Linked DNA regions of Homo sapiens: region 2 is linked to region 1. Evidence: fine-mapped expression QTL. A gene starts in region 1. The other region holds a variant in brackets. All regions are shown on one strand. Distances are from middle to middle.

The links. PIP is the estimated chance that this variant, and not a neighbour inherited with it, causes the effect.
Region 2: its variant is fine-mapped to the expression of SLC1A5 in whole blood (INTERVAL, PIP 0.98).

The regions. Positions count from the first base shown.
Region 1 is chr19:46,785,285-46,793,609 of GRCh38, reverse strand. SLC1A5 (solute carrier family 1 member 5) reads left to right here and starts at 5,016. Exons shown (of 8, transcript NM_005628.3): 1 at 5,016-6,210. The coding sequence starts at 5,645. RefSeq lists silencers at 4,699-4,858, 5,829-5,878, 5,889-5,938 and enhancers at 4,804-5,098, 4,747-5,348, 7,155-7,756, 7,757-8,325.
Region 2 is chr19:46,809,764-46,818,088 of GRCh38, reverse strand. It overlaps the pseudogene HNRNPMP2. Among named protein-coding and RNA genes, the nearest start is that of SNAR-E, 17 kb to the left of the region's middle. The variant C/T (reference allele first, on the strand shown) is at 3,374.

The DNA of each region.
Region 1 (8,325 bases):
GTGATTCTCCTGTCTCAGCCACTCGAGTAGCTGGGATTACGGGTAGGTAGCACCACGCCCCGCTAATTTTTGTATTTTTAGTTGAGATGAGGTTTCACCATGTTGGCCAGGCTGGTTTTGAATTCCTGGCCTTGAGAGATCCACCCACCTCAACCTTCCAAAGTGCTGGGATTCCAGGAGTGAGCCACTGCTCCCGGCTCCTCATCTGTTTTTCTCAGTGTTTGATAAATATTGGCCAGATGAGTCATCACAACGATCCCATGTCAGCTCATGGGCATCCGTCTCCTTCTATTTGATGTCTCTCAGTCTTCTATTCTGTGGATGTGGTTTGTTGAATGAATGAATAAATGAATCACCAAGCGGACAGATGCCTAGCTGAAGAGTGGTTTTCATCCTGAGGGAGGCCACTGGGGCTGTTCAGAGAGTAGGGGTGGCCCAGTTAGATCTGTGCTTTGAAATATTCCAGACTCTTCTGAAGTCTGGGATTTTTTTTTTTTTTTTTTTTTTAGACAGAGTCTTGCTTTATTGCCCAGGCTGGAGTGCAGTGGTGCAATCTTGGCTCACCGTAACCTCTGCCTTCTGGGTTCAAGTGATTCTCCTGCCTCAGCCTCCAGAATAGCTGGGATTACAGGCGTGTGCCATTAGTCCTGGCTATTTTTTTTACTTTTTATTTTCAGAAGAGACAGGGTTTTGCCATGTTGGCCAGGCTGGTCTGGAATTCCTGGTCTCCAGCAATCTACCCGCATTAGTCTCCCAAAGTGCTGGGATTACAGGCGTGAGCCACCATGCCTGGCCAGAAGTCTGGGATTTTGCATGTGCTATTCTCTTTGTCTGGAATATTCTTTCCCTGGGATTGGTCCAACTCCTTCATATCCCAGCTCCGATGCCTCCTCCTCCAGGAAGCTCTCCCTGACCCCCAAGCCTGGTCAAGCATCCCTTCTGGGCTCCCCCATCCCAGCCCTGCCCACTCTGTATCATCACTATCTGTGTCCCCCCCTGAACTTTGAGTCCCAGCAGAACGGGGCCAGAACTGTCTTGTTCGCCACTGGGTCCCTGGTATCACCCATCGCAGGACCCAACACTGGGCTCAGAATACATGACTGTCCCTTGAAGGAAATGTCTAGTTGGAGACAGCCGAGTGCAGGGGTAGCCAGGGTGTCTGATAGGAGATGCAGACAAGGATCAGAAACATCTGAGTTCAGATTTCTTGCTTATGCCTGGGGTTTGGGCCACAGCAAGCCTCATTACCCTTATCTGCTTCCAAATCAGGAAAATGGGAGTGTGAGCTGGTCTCCTGGATTAGTGGGGATAAAACCATGTCTGTGAGCACTGCTAACAGAGATGGAAACCTCTCTGTTGCCTCAGGGCTTCACACGCGTCCTTTGAATGTTTCCACATTATGCCATGGGCTCCTTCTTATCTTTCAGATCTCAGTGCAGATGTCACTTCCTTCCAGTGGCTGAACTGTTCACTCTGTCACTCATAGGATGCTTTTGCTTTCTCCCAACGCTTAGTTCCAGCTGACAGCCCAAGTTTATTGTCTTGTCTCTTCCGCACTAGAATGCACGCTCTAGCAGCCAAGGATTTTGTGTGTGTGTGTGTGTGTGTGTGTGTGTGTGTGATACAGAGTCTGGCTCTGTTGCCCAGGCTGGAGTGCAATGGTGAGATCTCAGCTCACTGCAACTTCTGCCTCCCAGGTTCAAGCGATTCTCCTGCCTCAGCCTCCCGAGTATCTGGGATTACAGGCGTGGACCACCACACCCGGCTAATTTTTTAGTATTTTTAGTAGAGATGGGGTTTCACCATGTCGGCCAGGCTGGTTTTGAACTCCTGACCTCAAGTGATCCGCCCGCCTCGGCCTCCCAAACTGCTGGGATTACAGGTGTAAGCCACTGCACCCGGCCAAGCCCAAGTTTATTGTCTTGTCTCTCTGCACTAGAATGCAAGCTCTAGCAGCCAAGGAATTTTTTGTTTTTTTGTTTTTTTTTTTGATACAGAGTCTCACTCTGTTGCCCAGGCTGGAGTGCAGTGGTGTGATCTCCGCTCACTGCAACCTCTGACGCCTGGGTTCAAGCAGTTCTCCTGCCTCAGCCTCCCAAGTAGCTGGGACTACAGCCGCCCGCCACCACGCCCAACTAATTTTTGTATTTTTAGTAGAGACAGGGTTTCACCATATTGGCCAGGATGGTCTCCATCTCCTGACCTCATGATCTGCCCACTTAGGCCTCCCAAAGTGCTGGGATTACAGGCATGAGACACTGTGCCTGGCCTATTTTCATGTTTTTGTATTTTTAGTAGAGATGGGGTTTCACCATGTTGGCCAGGCTGGTCTTGAACTCCTGACCTCAAGTGATCCACCTGCCTTGGCCTCCCATAGTGATGGGATTACAGGCGTGAGCCACCGCTCCCAGCCTAAATCTTTTTTCCCTTTAGACTGAGTCTTGCTCTGTCACCTAAGCTGGAGTGCAGTGGTGAGATTACAGCTCACTGTAGCCTTGACCTCCTGGCTCAAGCGATCCTCCCGCCTCACCCTCCTAAGTAGCTGGGACTATTGGCGCATACCACCACACTCAGCTTATTTTTTAATTTTTTTGTAGAGACGGAGTCTCGCCATGTTGCCCAGGCTGGTCTCAAATTCCTGGGCTCAAGTGAGCCTCCCACCTTGGCCTCCCAAAGTGCTGGGATTAAGGGTGTAAGCCACTGTGAAATTTTTTTTTTTTTTTTTTTTGAGACGGAGTCTCGCTCTGTCGCCCAGGCTGGAGTGCAGTGGCGTGATCTCGGCTCACTGCAAGCTCCGCCTCCCGGGTTCACACCATTCTCCTGCCTCAGCCTCCCGAGTAGCTGGGACTACAGGCGCCCGCCATCATGCCTGGCTGATTTTTTGTATTTTTAGTAGAGACGGGGTTTCACCGTGTTAGCCAGGATGGTCTCGATCTCCTGACCTTGTGATCCACCCGCCTCGGCCTCCCAAAGTGCTGGGATTACAGGCGTGAGCCACCATGCCCGGCCGAAAAATTTTTTAAAATATTTATTTATTTATTTTGAGACGGAGTCTCACTCTGTCACTAGGCTGGAGTGCAGAGGTGTGATCTTGGCTCACTGCAACCTCCACCTCCCGGGTTCAAGCGATTCTCCTGCCTCAGCCTCCTGAGTAGCTGGGACTACAAGTGCATGCCACCATGCCCAACTAATTTTTGTATTTTTAGTAGAGACAGAGTTTCACCATATTGGCCAGGATGGTCTCGATCTCCTGACCTCATGATCTGCCCACTCTGGCCTCCCAAAGTGCTGAGATTACAGACATGAGCCACCATGCCTGGCCTATTTTCATGTTTTTAAAGATAAGGTCTCACTATGTTGCCCCGGATGGAGTCTAGTGGCTAAATGTGGGCACGATCATAGCTCACTGCAGCCTTGAACTCCTGGCCTCAAGGGATCCTCCTGCTTTAGCCTCCCAAATACCTGGGACTACAGGTGCATGCCACTGAATCCAGCTTGTTCTTCAGTAATAATAACAATAACAGCAATCGCAGCAGTAGTATTTGACTTTCTTCTGAAGGGCATTTTTGTTAGAAACAAAAGAAGAGAGAAAGAACAAAAAATTTTAAAGCACAAATAAATAACTTTTTTTTTTTTGAGGTGGAGTCTCACTCTGTCACCCAGGCTGGAGTGCAGTGGTGAGATCTCGGCTCTTCGCAACCTCTGCCTCCTGGATTCAAGCAATTCTTCTGCCTCAGCCTCCTGAGTAGCTGGGATTACAGGCATGTGCCACCACACCCAGCTAATTTTTGCATTTTCAGCAGAGACAGGGTTTTGCCATGTTGGCCAGGCTCGTCTGGAACTCCTGACCTCAAGTGATCTGCCCGCATCAACTCCCAAAGTGGTGGGATAACAGGCGTGAGCCACTGCGCCCGGCCGTATTATCTCATTTGAACCCTTGCAACACTCAAGGCGGTATGACTTATTATTATTCCCATTTACACATATGAAGACTGAGCCTCATAGAGGTTGTAAATTACCTGAGGCCTCACAGCTGCTGTAGGAGGAAGCTTCTGACATTACCACTACAATCTTTGAGCAAGCATGAAAGCCTGAAATGTCACAGAACAGGCTAGAGATGGGAAAGGAATGAGGATTTCAACACTGTCAGGTGGAGTAAGGAATCATAATTCATTGTTAACCTCCCAAACGGCCACTAACAGAGAATTTGGGGAGGCAGCAGAGTGGGTGCGGTTAGGGGCTTGGGAGGTGGGCATGCACGTGTCATCCTCTCTAGGTGTGGCCTCAAGGTGAATGACTTCCTCTGCCTCTGGGGTTCAAGCGATTCTCCTGCCTCAGGCTTCCAGTAGCTGGGATTACAGGCACGTGCCACCACACCAGGTAATTTTTGTATTTTTAGTAGAGACGGGTTTCACCATGTTGGCCAGGCTGGTCTCGACCTCCTGACCTCAAGTGATCCGCCCGCTTCACCTCCCAAAGTGGTGGGATTACAGGCTTGAGCCACGGCTCCCTAAATAAATACATCAATTTTATTTAAATCTTACAGCAATCATATGAGACAAAAGCTTTTAACACCTGCACTTTATATTCGAGGAATTAAAGTTCTCAGAGGCGACTAAAGACCAAACTCAGGGCTGAGGAGTTCCAAAGCTGAGTTGAGTTGCAAATGAATCACCGAGGACCACCGGAGCTTTCTAGCGACCCTCGCACCAGGGAACGAACCCCTGTGGTTTAAGGGCTCCAACCCACAACCCAGTTCCTTTGGCGGGAAACAGCACCCTCCCAAGGCCCCGCCCCTTCCTGGCCCCGCCCCGTCGTCTCTGGGCCCGGCTCCTGGAGATGGGTATTATTAATCTGCCTTCTATGGGGGACCTGGCCCATCTCGGGTATCAGCCCCGCCCCTACTCGTCCAGTCTCCGAACGCTCTGCAGCCAATCGGCGCCCGAGGGTCGGTCCCCGCCTTCTCAAGCCCCGCCCCCTACCCTTATCCCTGGCAGCTTCCGCTAAACGGGCTCAGAGCCACGCGGCACGCCCGGGAGGCTTTCTCTGGCTGGTAACCGCTACTCCCGGACACCAGACCACCGCCTTCCGTACACAGGGGCCCGCATCCCACCCTCCCGGACCTAAGAGCCTGGGTCCCCTGTTTCCGGAGGTCCGCTTCCCGGCCCCCAGATTCTGGCATCCCAGCCCTCAGTGTCCAAGACCCAGGCAGCCCGGGTCCCCGCCTCCCGGATCCAGGCGTCCGGGATCTGCGCCACCAGAACCTAGCCTCCTGCAGACCTCCGCCATCTGGGGGCACTCAACCTCCTGGAGCCAAGGGCCCCACGTCCCACCCAGAGAAACTCTCGTATTCCCAGCTCCTAGGGCCAAGGAACCCGGGCGCTCCGAACTCCCAGCTTTCGGACATCTGGCACACGGGGCAGAGCAGAGAAGCCTCAGCGCCCAGCCTGGGGAATTTAAACACTCCAGCTTCCAAGAGCCAAGGAACTTCAGTGCTGTGAACTCACAACTCTAAGGAGCCCTCCAAAGTTCCAGTCTCCAGGTGCTGTTACTCAACTCAGTCCTAGGAACGTCGGGTCCTGGGAAGGAGCCCAAGCGCTCCCAGCCAGCTTCCAGGCGCTAAGAAACCCCGGTGCTTCCCATCATGGTGGCCGATCCTCCTCGAGACTCCAAGGGGCTCGCAGCGGCGGAGCCCACCGCCAACGGGGGCCTGGCGCTGGCCTCCATCGAGGACCAAGGCGCGGCAGCAGGCGGCTACTGCGGTTCCCGGGACCAGGTGCGCCGCTGCCTTCGAGCCAACCTGCTTGTGCTGCTGACAGTGGTGGCCGTGGTGGCCGGCGTGGCGCTGGGACTGGGGGTGTCGGGGGCCGGGGGTGCGCTGGCGTTGGGCCCGGAGCGCTTGAGCGCCTTCGTCTTCCCGGGCGAGCTGCTGCTGCGTCTGCTGCGGATGATCATCTTGCCGCTGGTGGTGTGCAGCTTGATCGGCGGCGCCGCCAGCCTGGACCCCGGCGCGCTCGGCCGTCTGGGCGCCTGGGCGCTGCTCTTTTTCCTGGTCACCACGCTGCTGGCGTCGGCGCTCGGAGTGGGCTTGGCGCTGGCTCTGCAGCCGGGCGCCGCCTCCGCCGCCATCAACGCCTCCGTGGGAGCCGCGGGCAGTGCCGAAAATGCCCCCAGCAAGGAGGTGCTCGATTCGTTCCTGGATCTTGCGAGGTCAGCTCCCGCTCCCCCGGGAGGTGGGGAAGAGTGTTACGGATGGCGGGAGTGGTCACGTGGACAGGACGGGGCTTTGGGGCCCCTGGAGCAGAGACTTCCCTCTAGAGTCTTAGGAAAACTCGACAGGATATTGAGGGGAGGCTCCAGCCCTCGGGAGTGTGAGTCTAGTCTCCTGGGGAAGGGGTTTCTAAATCTGGGGGCCTGGGTACATAAGTGGGGTCTTATAGAGGGAGAAGAAAGTGATTTGGGGAGACATAGGAGGGTCTGCCTAGGGGAGAAAGACACTGAGGGGAGGGGACCCCAGGAGGAACTTTTGCGGGGGGAATCTTTGCGTGGTCAAGGGCCCCAAGATGGGGCTTCTAGATATAATTTGGGGCCAGGGTTGGAGAGTTTGGGTAAGGAGCCCCTGGAGGATCTGAGATCTGAGTAACTCCCACCAGGCCCTCTTCCCAGCCCTGGGGCACCCCCACACCACGTGTCACTCGGACATAACCAGGCTCTGTTTTTGGCCTCCGCTTCCCGCCCATTTCAGCTGGGGTCTGGCCGCTTCCCCTTTATCTTTTAGATCAGCCCTGCCACCCCTGCCTTTCCCTCCCGTTTCCTCCTCTGTCTGGGCCACCCCCTAGCAGGCAGCCCAGAAGAGGACCAGTTAGAAAGGGGAGCAGATTCTTTTCCTTCTCCTGGCCTCTGCCCCGCGCCCCCAAGAATGGCCTCCCCCACTTTGAGGAGGGCGGGGGGCAGAGGCCCCCTTGCGCTTGCCTTTAGGGCTTGCTCATTCAGTGTCTCCACGTTGGGGACTTCCTGGAAGTTGGGGGAAGGAAATGATGAGTCACGGAACAGGGTTCTCCAGCCTCTGGGGCGTCAGTGCAGGCTGAGATGCGAGACTGGGGCAGGCTTGGTGTCCCGAGTTGAAGCCTGGGAGCACCTTCTGGCTGGGGGAGATTAGCTGGGTCCTGGCCCAGCCTGGGCCTGGGTGGTACAGGCGGACCTTCAGGCAGGCACACCCACTCCGAGGCTGTTTATGAGCACAGGCCTCCCCTGCGTGCCAAAACAGCTGTAGCTCACACTTGGCCTGCCACACAGGCTTATAACCAAATGACATACAGCTGGACACATTCACGCAGACACTCAGCTGAGGCTGTAGCATCTCGACAAACACATGGCCAGATACCAGCGGTCATACACACGCTCACTGTGTACTAAGACCCCTGTAGCACAGCCATTCAGTGATGCCACCAGCCACGCCAACATCTAAACACAGGCTCAAGAGCACACAATACACACTCACATACACACCTATGTGGTCACACACCAATAAACTCATGCTTTTTTTTTTTTTTTTTGAGACAGTCTCTGTTGCTCAGGCTGGAGTGCAGTGGTGCGATCTTGGCTCATTGCAACCTCTACCTCCTGGATTTAAGTGATTCTCGTGCCTCAGCCTTCCGTGTGCCACCACGCCTGGATAATTTTTGTGTTTTTAGTAGAGACGGGGTTTTGCCATGTTGGCCAGGCTGGTCTCGAACCCCTGACCTCAAGTTATCTGCCCACCTCAGCCTCCCAAAAGGCTGGAATTACTGGCGTGAGCCACCGCACCCGGCCAAACTCATTCCTCTACCATGACGTTATTTTACTGTACCGTGATGCATGGGTGGCCATCCATGGACACTGTCCCATACTACTGAACCTTAACCTGCACCCAAACTATTAACATTTGACAGATTGTATATGGGCACATGGCGTTGGCTGTACACCAGTCATTGGTGAGAGGGAGCATGTGGAGTGCTTGGGGCTATGGAGCCAGCTGGCTGGGTTCAAATCCCAGCTCTGCTATTTCCCAGCTGGGCAATTTTCTTTACCCTTCTGGGCCTCAGCTTCCTTTTCTGTAAAATGGGGTAATAGTGATTATCCCCAAGGCTGTCGTGAGGATGAAATGGGTTAATTTGTGTCAAGCACAGGCCAAAATGCCTGCCTGCCACACGGTAGGTGCTGTAGATGGCTTAGCTGCTATATATATTTTTTGAGAGAGTCTCACTCGGTCCCAGGCTGGAATGCAGTGGCTTGATCTTGGTTCACTGCAGCCTCAACCTCCTCGGGCTTGAGTGATCCTCCCAC
Region 2 (8,325 bases), 24 kb before region 1:
AACCCCTGGCCTCAAGTGATTTGAAAGCCTCCGCCTCCCAAAGTGCTGGGATTAGAGGCATAAGCCACTGTGTCCAGCCTTATACACTCTTTCTTTCTTTTTTTTTTTTCTGTCACCCAGGCTGGAGTGGAGTGGTGTGATCTCTACTCACAGCAACCTCTGTCTCCTGGATTCAAGTGATTCTCGTGCCTCAGAGTAGCTGGGACTATAGGCACGCACCACCACAAGCAGCTAATTTTTATATTTTTAGTAGAGATGGGGTTTCGCCATGATGGCCAGGCTAGTCTCGAACTCCTGGCCTCAAGTGATCCGCCCGCCTCAGCCTCTCAGAGTGCCTTATACTCTTTCTTTCTTTCTTTTTTTTTTTTTTTGAGACGGAATCTCACTCTTGTAGCCCAGGCTGGAGTGCAATGGCGTGATCTCGGCTCACTGCAACCTCCACCTTCCAGGTTCAAGCAATTCTCCTGCCTCAGCCTCCTGAGTTGCTGAGATTACAGGTGCCTGCCACCACACCTGGCTAATATTTTGTAATTTTTTTTTTTGTAGAGACAGGGCTTCACCATGTTAGCCAGGATGGTCTCGATCTCCTGACCTCGTGATCCGCCCGCCTCGGCCTCCCAAAGTACTTGGATTACAGGTGTGAGCCACCGCGCCTGGCTGCCATATACTCTTTCTCAAGACCTCTTCTCTTGAGCCTAGGGATGGTTCCCCTCTTGCTTACTCAACGACAACAATCCAGCCACTTTCCTCTCTTGCTTCTCTTCTGGAATCTAGAAATCCAGATCATTCCCATCAGCACATGAACCAGCTGTTTGATCTTCTCTGCTCTTCTGACCTTTCTATCAAAAGAATTGACTTTTAGCTGGGCATGGTGGCTCATACCCATAATCTCAGCACTTTGGGAGGCTGAGGTGGGAGGATCACTTGAGCTCAGCAGTTCGAGGCTGGATTGAGCTACAACGGTGCCTCCACTCCAGCCTGGGTGACATAGTGAGATCCTGTTTCTACAAAACATTTTTTTCTATTTTGAGACAGAGTCTCGTGATGTCACCCAGGCTGGAGTGCAGTGGCGTGATCTTGGCTCACTGCAGCCTCCGCCTCCTGGGTTAAAGCGATTCTTCTGCCTCAACCTCCCTAGTAGCTGAGACTCCAGGTGCCTGCCACCACACCCGGCTAATTATTGTATTTTTAGTAGAGATGGAGTTTCACCATGTTGGCCATGCTGGTCTTGAACTCCTGACCTCAGGTGATCCGTCCGCCTCAGCGTCCCAAAGTGCTGGGATTACAGGCTTGAGCCACCATACCCAGCCTACAAAACATTTTTAAAAATAATAAACCAGGCATGGTAGCACACGCCTGTAGTGAGCCATGATGTCACCACAGCACTCCAGTCTGGGTGACAGAGTGAGACCCTGTCTCAAAAAAAAAAAAAAAAAAAAAATTAACCCTGTACCTGGCCGTAATGAATCAACAATTGGAAGCTGTGTTATTATAAAGACGGGTGAACATATGGGCCCCTTTGCTGGTCCCCATCTGGCCTGGCTCTCCTGTTCTCCACCCTGCACACTCATGCCTGGGAACCTGCGTCTCCTCTCAGCCTCCCCAACGGCGGCCCAACCCACATGGCGTTTGATCTGCCCACTTCAGAGCCTTCACCTCCGGCCTGCAGCCCATCAGAGGCGGCTGGATCCCGGCCTCCTCCCCACATGGGCCTTTGAGGATGGGATGAAAGAGGCTAGGCTGAAACCAGTGTGAATGGCCAAACGGGGAACTCAGGAATCCCTGGTGCTACGCCCAGGAACAGAGGTGCGCGGCGGGGAGGCAGAGCAAGGGATGCTTCTTGGGGCTTGCTGGCAGTGCCAGAATGACCTGGGCATTTACCGACCACCTCCTGTGTGCTCAGGCCTGTGCTAGGTGATGCTGAGGACATAGTGGTGACTGGCCTGGCCGTCAGAGGGCTCACAGGCCAGCGGAGCAGATAGGCCAGTGCCCCAAGAGCAACAACCTAGTGGGAACAGGGCTGGGATGGGAAAACCTAGTTGATGCAGTCAAGAAGGGCTTCCTGGAAGAGGAGGTTCTTAAGTTCTTCACAGAGTCTATGATGCCCATCTCAACCTACCTCTTCAGCCACATCTGATGACACTTCCCCACAATCCCTTGAATCCAGCCACCCTGTTCCTTCTAATTCTTTTCATTTTTGTTTATTTATTTATTTTGAGACAGAATCTCGCTCTGTCGCCCAGGCTGGAGTGCAGTGGCGTGATCTCGGCTCACTACAACCTCCACCTCCTGGGTTCAAGCAATTCTTTTGCCTCAGCCTCCCAAGTAGTTGGGATTACAGGCGCCCGCCAACATGCCCAGCTAATTTTTGTATTTTTAGTAGAGACGGGGTTCCACTATGTTGGCCAGGCTGGTCTTGAACTCCCGACCTCAGATGATCCACCCGCCTTGGCCTCCCAAAGTGCTGGGATTACAGGTGTGAGCCATGGCCCCTGGTCTCCATCTGATTCCTGACCACTTCAAGTTCATTCTCACGTCTGGTTCATTGCACTTGCTATTTCTTTTGCCAGCTTCTCTCTTCTCAGTCCCTCATCAGGCAGGTTCCTTATCCTCACTCAGATTGCAGACGAATTCTTCTTGCAGCACTGAGCTCTTTCAAAAAATTGTCTTGGCCAGGTGCAGTGGCTCATGCCTGTAATCTCAGCACTGTGGGAGGCTGAAGCAGGAGGATCCCTTGAGCCCAGGAGTTTAAGACCAGTCTGGGCAACATAGTGAGACCTCATCTCTACAAAAAAATCAAAAAAATTAGCTGGGCATGGTGGTGCACGCCTGTAGTCCCAGCTACTCAGGAGGCTGAGTTGAGAGGATTGTTTGAGCCCAGGAGTTCAAGGCTGCAGTGAGCTATGATCACACTGCTGCACTCCAGCCTGGGTGATGGGGTGAGACTCTGTCTCTAAAAATAAATTTTAAAATAGTTCTCTTATGTCAAGTGCTGGGGCTCACACCTGTAAACACTAGGATTTTGGGAGGCTGAGGTGGGAGGATCACTTGAGCCCAGGAATTTGAGTCCAGCCTGAGGAAAATAGCGAGACCTCATCTCCAAAAACAAATAGGCCAGGTACGGTGGCTTAAGCCTGTAATCCTAGCAGTTTGGGAGGCCGAGGTGGGCAGATCACCTGAGGTCAGGAGTTCGAGACCAGCCTGGCCAACATGGTGAAATCCTGTCTCTACTAAAAACAGAAAAAACTAGCCGGGTGTGGTGGTGCACACCTGCAATCCCAACTACTCAGGGGACTGAGGCAGGAGAATCACTTGAAACTGGGAGGTGGAGGTTGCAGTGAGCTGAGATTGTGCCACTGCACTCTAGCTTGGG[C/T]GACAGAGTGAGACTCTGTTTCAAAAATAAATAAATAAATAAATAAGAAAGATAAGCTTTTGGCTGGGCACTGTGTCTCATGTCTGTAATCCCAGACTTTGGGTGGCTGAGGCAGGAGGATCACTTGAGGCCAGGAGTTCGAGACCAGCCTCGCCAACACAGGGAAACCCTGTCTCTACCAAAAAATATAAAAATTAGCCAGGCGTGGTGGCGGGCGCCTGTAATCCCAGCTACTCAGGAGGCTGAGGCAAAAGAATCACTTGAACCCAGGAGGCAGAGGTTGCAGTGAGTGGAGATCACGCCCTGCACTCCAGCCTGGGTGACAGAATGAGACCCTGTCTCAAAAATAAATAAATGAATGAATGAATAAATAAATAAATAAATAAATAAGCAAGCTTTTAAATCAAGCCCATGAACACTGTAGAAAAAAAAAAAAAAGAAAAGAAAACATTCCCTTGTTTGCAGTCTCTGTTGACTCCTTTATTTCCTGCCTTCTCCACTACAATGTAGCCTCTCCTAACCCTGTGTTCCCCAATCCCTGGCAGGGTGCCCGACACAGGGTTGACGTCCGGCAAATATTTGTTAGATGAAGGAAGGATCCAAGATCTCCAGGAGAAAACAGGGTTTGGTGAAGAGGTGGCGGGGGCGGGGATGAGGGCAGAGAGTTCCAGGCACCCCGATTCAAAAATGAGCAAAGGACTTGAATAGACATTTCTGCAAAGAAGACATACAAATGGCCCATAATGCACACGAAAAGATGCTCAATGTCATGAATCATCAGAGAAATTCAAATGAAATCTACCAGGGAACAGCAGGGGCAAAGGTGTGGAGCAGAGAGAGGGTTGGTGTTTTGGGGGCCCTGGAGGAGGTTGTGTCTCGCTGAAAGGAGGGAGGGTGGGAGAGGCAGTGGGAGGAGGAGGGGTTGGAGGGAGGAGGAGGGATAGGAGGGAAAGAGGGAGAGGAGGGAGAGGAAGGGAGAGGACAGAGGTGAGAGAGAAGGAGGCGGGGAGGAGAGAGGAGAAGGGTGGAGGTGGAGGGCCAGATGTGAGTCAGCTCCCACCCTTACAGACCTAGTGCGAAGGAAAGATCGAGAGTTTTTATCCACCAGACATTTGGGGATCATTTTGGGTAGGGGCAGAGGTGGTGGAGGAGATGCCTTTCCGGGAAACCCTGAAGTTGGCTTAGAGAGGAGGGTGCTGAGGGACAGGCCGCCCCCGCCAGAGCCTTCTAAGGACTTTCTGCACAGCATTCCACCACGGGGCCTTCTGGGACAGGCTGTGACTGCCTGGCAGCCCCGGCCGTCCCCACTCCCGGGTCACCGCTCCGGCCTCCTCACGCCTGGACTCACCCTCCTCCTTCCCTGCTCCCCACGGTAGCCCGAGGCTGGCACTTTTTATAGAACACTTCAAAAAATGTTAATAGGTAATTGAAGTCACATGGCTCATTTCTACAGTCACAGGAGGGGACACAGTGGAAAAACCTTCTCCTCTCCCCTGTTCCCTCCCCTCCAGGCCCCTCCTGGGAGGCACTGCGACCTCCGCTCAGCTTCCTTCATCCCATCCTCAAAGGCCCACGTGGGGAGGATGCCCGGCTCCAGCTGCCTCTGATGGGCCATAGGCCGGAGGTGGAGGCTCTGATGTGGGCAGATTAAAGGCCACGTGGGCCGGGCCACTGTGAGGGAGGCTCAGAGGAGAAGCAGGTTCCGAGGCATGAGTGTGCAGGGTGGAGAACAGGAGAGCCAGGCCAGGTGGGGAACCAGCAGAGGGGCCGGTTTCTTGTGTTTTCTCCCACAGAGAGTCACAGACTGTCTAGCAAATGCAAGCGCAGGTGGAGAAATGCTGCCCAGGTCATTCACATGTGTCTGCAACTTTCATTTATTTAATTTATTTATTTATTTGAGATAAAGTTTTGCTCTTGTCAGTCAGGCTGGAGTGCAACGGCACGATCTCAGCTCACTGCAACCTCCACCTCCCAGGTTCAAGCGATTCTCCTGCCTCAGCCTCCCAAGTAGCTGGGACTACAGGCATGTGCCACCAGGCCCAGCTAATTTTGTTTTCTGTTTTTGTTTTTGTTTGAGACTGAATCTTGCTCTGTCACCCATGCTGGAGTGCAGTGGTGCGATCTCAGCTCACTGCAACCTCCGCCTCCCGGGTTCAAGCAATTCTCCTGCCTCAGCCTCCCGAGTAGCTGGGACTACAGGCGCGCACTACCACATCCAGCTAATTTTTGTATTTTTAGTGGAGACAGGGTTTCATCATGTTGGCCAGAATGGTCTCGATTTCTTGATCTCGTGATTTGCCCACCTCGGCCTCCTAAAGTGCTGGGATTACAGGCCTGAGCCACCTTGCCTGGCCTCATTTATTTATTTTTGAGACAGGGTCTCTCTGTCTCTCTGTCTGTCACCCAGGCTGCAGTGTAGTGGCACAATTAGGGCTCACCTGCATCCTCCAACTCCTGGGCTCAAGCCATCCTCCCACCTCAGCCTCCTAAGTAGCTAGGACTATAGGCGTGCACCAGCACACCTGGCTAATTTTTTTTTCAAGAACCAGTATTTATTATCAAAATCATATTCAATGTCAAGAAGACACCATAACTACAAAAAAAATTGCGCACAGTGCAATCTCAAGGCAAACAGTCAAATGGAACACCAGTCATTTAAAAAAGTAATTAAATTAGCCCAAAAAGCAACTGGTTTTTTTTTTTTTTTTTTTTACCATCTTTTTCTTTTTTTTTTTTCTTTTTGAGATAGAGTTTTGCTCTTGTCGCCCAGCTAGAGCTCAATGGCACGATCTCTGGCTCACTGAAACCTCTGCCTCCCTGGGTTCAAGCTTTTTTAACATCTTTATACATCCAGCCAACAAATTAAAATGGTTAACAAGTGGTCTGGCGTGGTGGTTCATGCCTATAATCCTAGCACTTTGAGAGGCCAAGGTGTGTGGATCACCTGAGGTCAGGTGAGACCAGCCTGACCAACATGGTGAAACTAAAAATACAAAAAAAATTAGCCCCGTGTGGTGGTGAGTGCCTGTAGTATAGCTATTTGGGAGGCTGAGTCAGGAGAATTGCTTGAACCTGAGAGAGAGAGTTTGCAGTGAGTTGAGACTGTGCCACTGCACTACAGCGTAGGCAACAGAGCGAGACTCTCTCAAAAGTAAATAAATAAATAAATAAATAATAAAATGATTGGCCAGGCGCGGTAGCTCACACCTGTAATCCCAGCACTTTGGGAGGCTGAGGCAGGTGGATCACGAAGTCAAGAGTTCGAAACCATCCTGGCCAACATGGTGAAACCCCGTCTCCGCTAAAAATACAAAAAAAAAGAAAAAAAAATTAGCTGGATGTGGTGGCACGTGTCTGTAATCCCAGCTACTCAGGAGGCTGAGGCAGGAAGATCGCTTAAACCAGGGAGTTGGAGGTTGCAGTGAGCCGAGATTGCACCACTGCACTCCAGCCTGGCAACAGAGCGAGACTCTGTCTCAAAAAAAAAAAAAAAAAAAATTAAAATGCTAAATTAAAAAAAAAAAAAAAAAGCTGCCAGGCGCTGTGGCTCATGCCTGTAATCCCAGCACTTTGGGAGGCTGAGGCAGGCGGATCACAAGGTCAGGAGATCGAGACCATCCTGGCTAACATGGTGAAACCCCTGTCTCTACTAAAAATACAAAAATAAAAATAAATAAATAAATTAGCCGGGCGCGGTGGCGCGTGCCTGTAGTCCCAGCTACTCGGAAGGCTGAGGCAGGAGAAGGGCGTGAACCCGGGAGGCGGAGCTTGCAGTGAGCCGAGATCGCGCCACTGCACTGAGCCTGGGCGACAGAGCGAGACTCTGTCTCAAAAAAAAAAAAAAAAAAAAAGCCAGTGTGGTGGCTCATGCCTGTAATCCCAGCACTTGGGAGGCCAAGGCGGGTGGATCACTTGAGGTCAGGAGTTCGAGACCAGCCTGGCCAACATGGTGAAACCCCATCTCTACTAAAAATACAAAACTTAGCCAGGCGTGGTGGCACATGCCTGTGGTCGCAGCTACTTGGGAGGCTGAGGCACGAGAATCGCTTGAACCCAGGAGGCAGAGGTTGCGGTGAGCTGAGATTGCACCACTATACTCCAGCCTGGGCGACAGAGTGAGACTGTGTCTCAAAAAAAAAAAAAAGGAAAAGAAAAATAAAAAGGTTAACAAGAGGGCCGGGCACAGTGGCTCATGCCTGTAATCCCAGCATTTTGGGAGGCCAAGGGTGGGCGGATCACCTGAGGTCAGGAGTTCGAGACCAGCCTGACCAACATGGAGAAACCCTGTCTCTACTAAAAATACAAAATTAGCCGGCATGGTATTACATACCTGTAATCCCAGCTACTCAGGAGGCTGAGGCAGGAGTATCTCTTGAAGCCGGGAGGCAGAGGTTGTGGTGAGCCGAGATCGCGCCACTGCACTCCAGCCTGGGAGACAAGAGCGAAACCCTGTCTCAAAAAAAAAAAAAAAAAGTTAACAAGAAAAAATACAAATTCAGAGGTCTGGTATTGATGTTTAAAAAAGGCAACTGCTTAAGCATTTCTATTTATTTGAACATCAGTCTTGGCCATTCAGCTGCATGTTGTTCATTATCCGGCAGACTCTCTCAGCCACCTCTGGGGACGTAAACTTAACCACACTGCACCCCTTGGACTTCCCGTTCTCCATTTCGATGTCAGTGTACAGCATGTGGCCATACTCGTTGAATTTGTCCTTTAGCATCTTCCATGTAAAATTGAATGGGAGATTTCTTACAAATATTTGGCATGCCTTCCTGGCCATGCCCAGGAGCATGGTCTCCTGCTCCACCAAGGGAACCTGCAAAGCTTCCAAAGTTGCCACACTCCATACCGATGGCATGGTCAAAGGTGGCACCGCCACTGCCACACATGGCCAGGCCCATGCACGTGAGGCTCTTGGCACCCATGTGCTCTAGGCCAGTGACCATGTG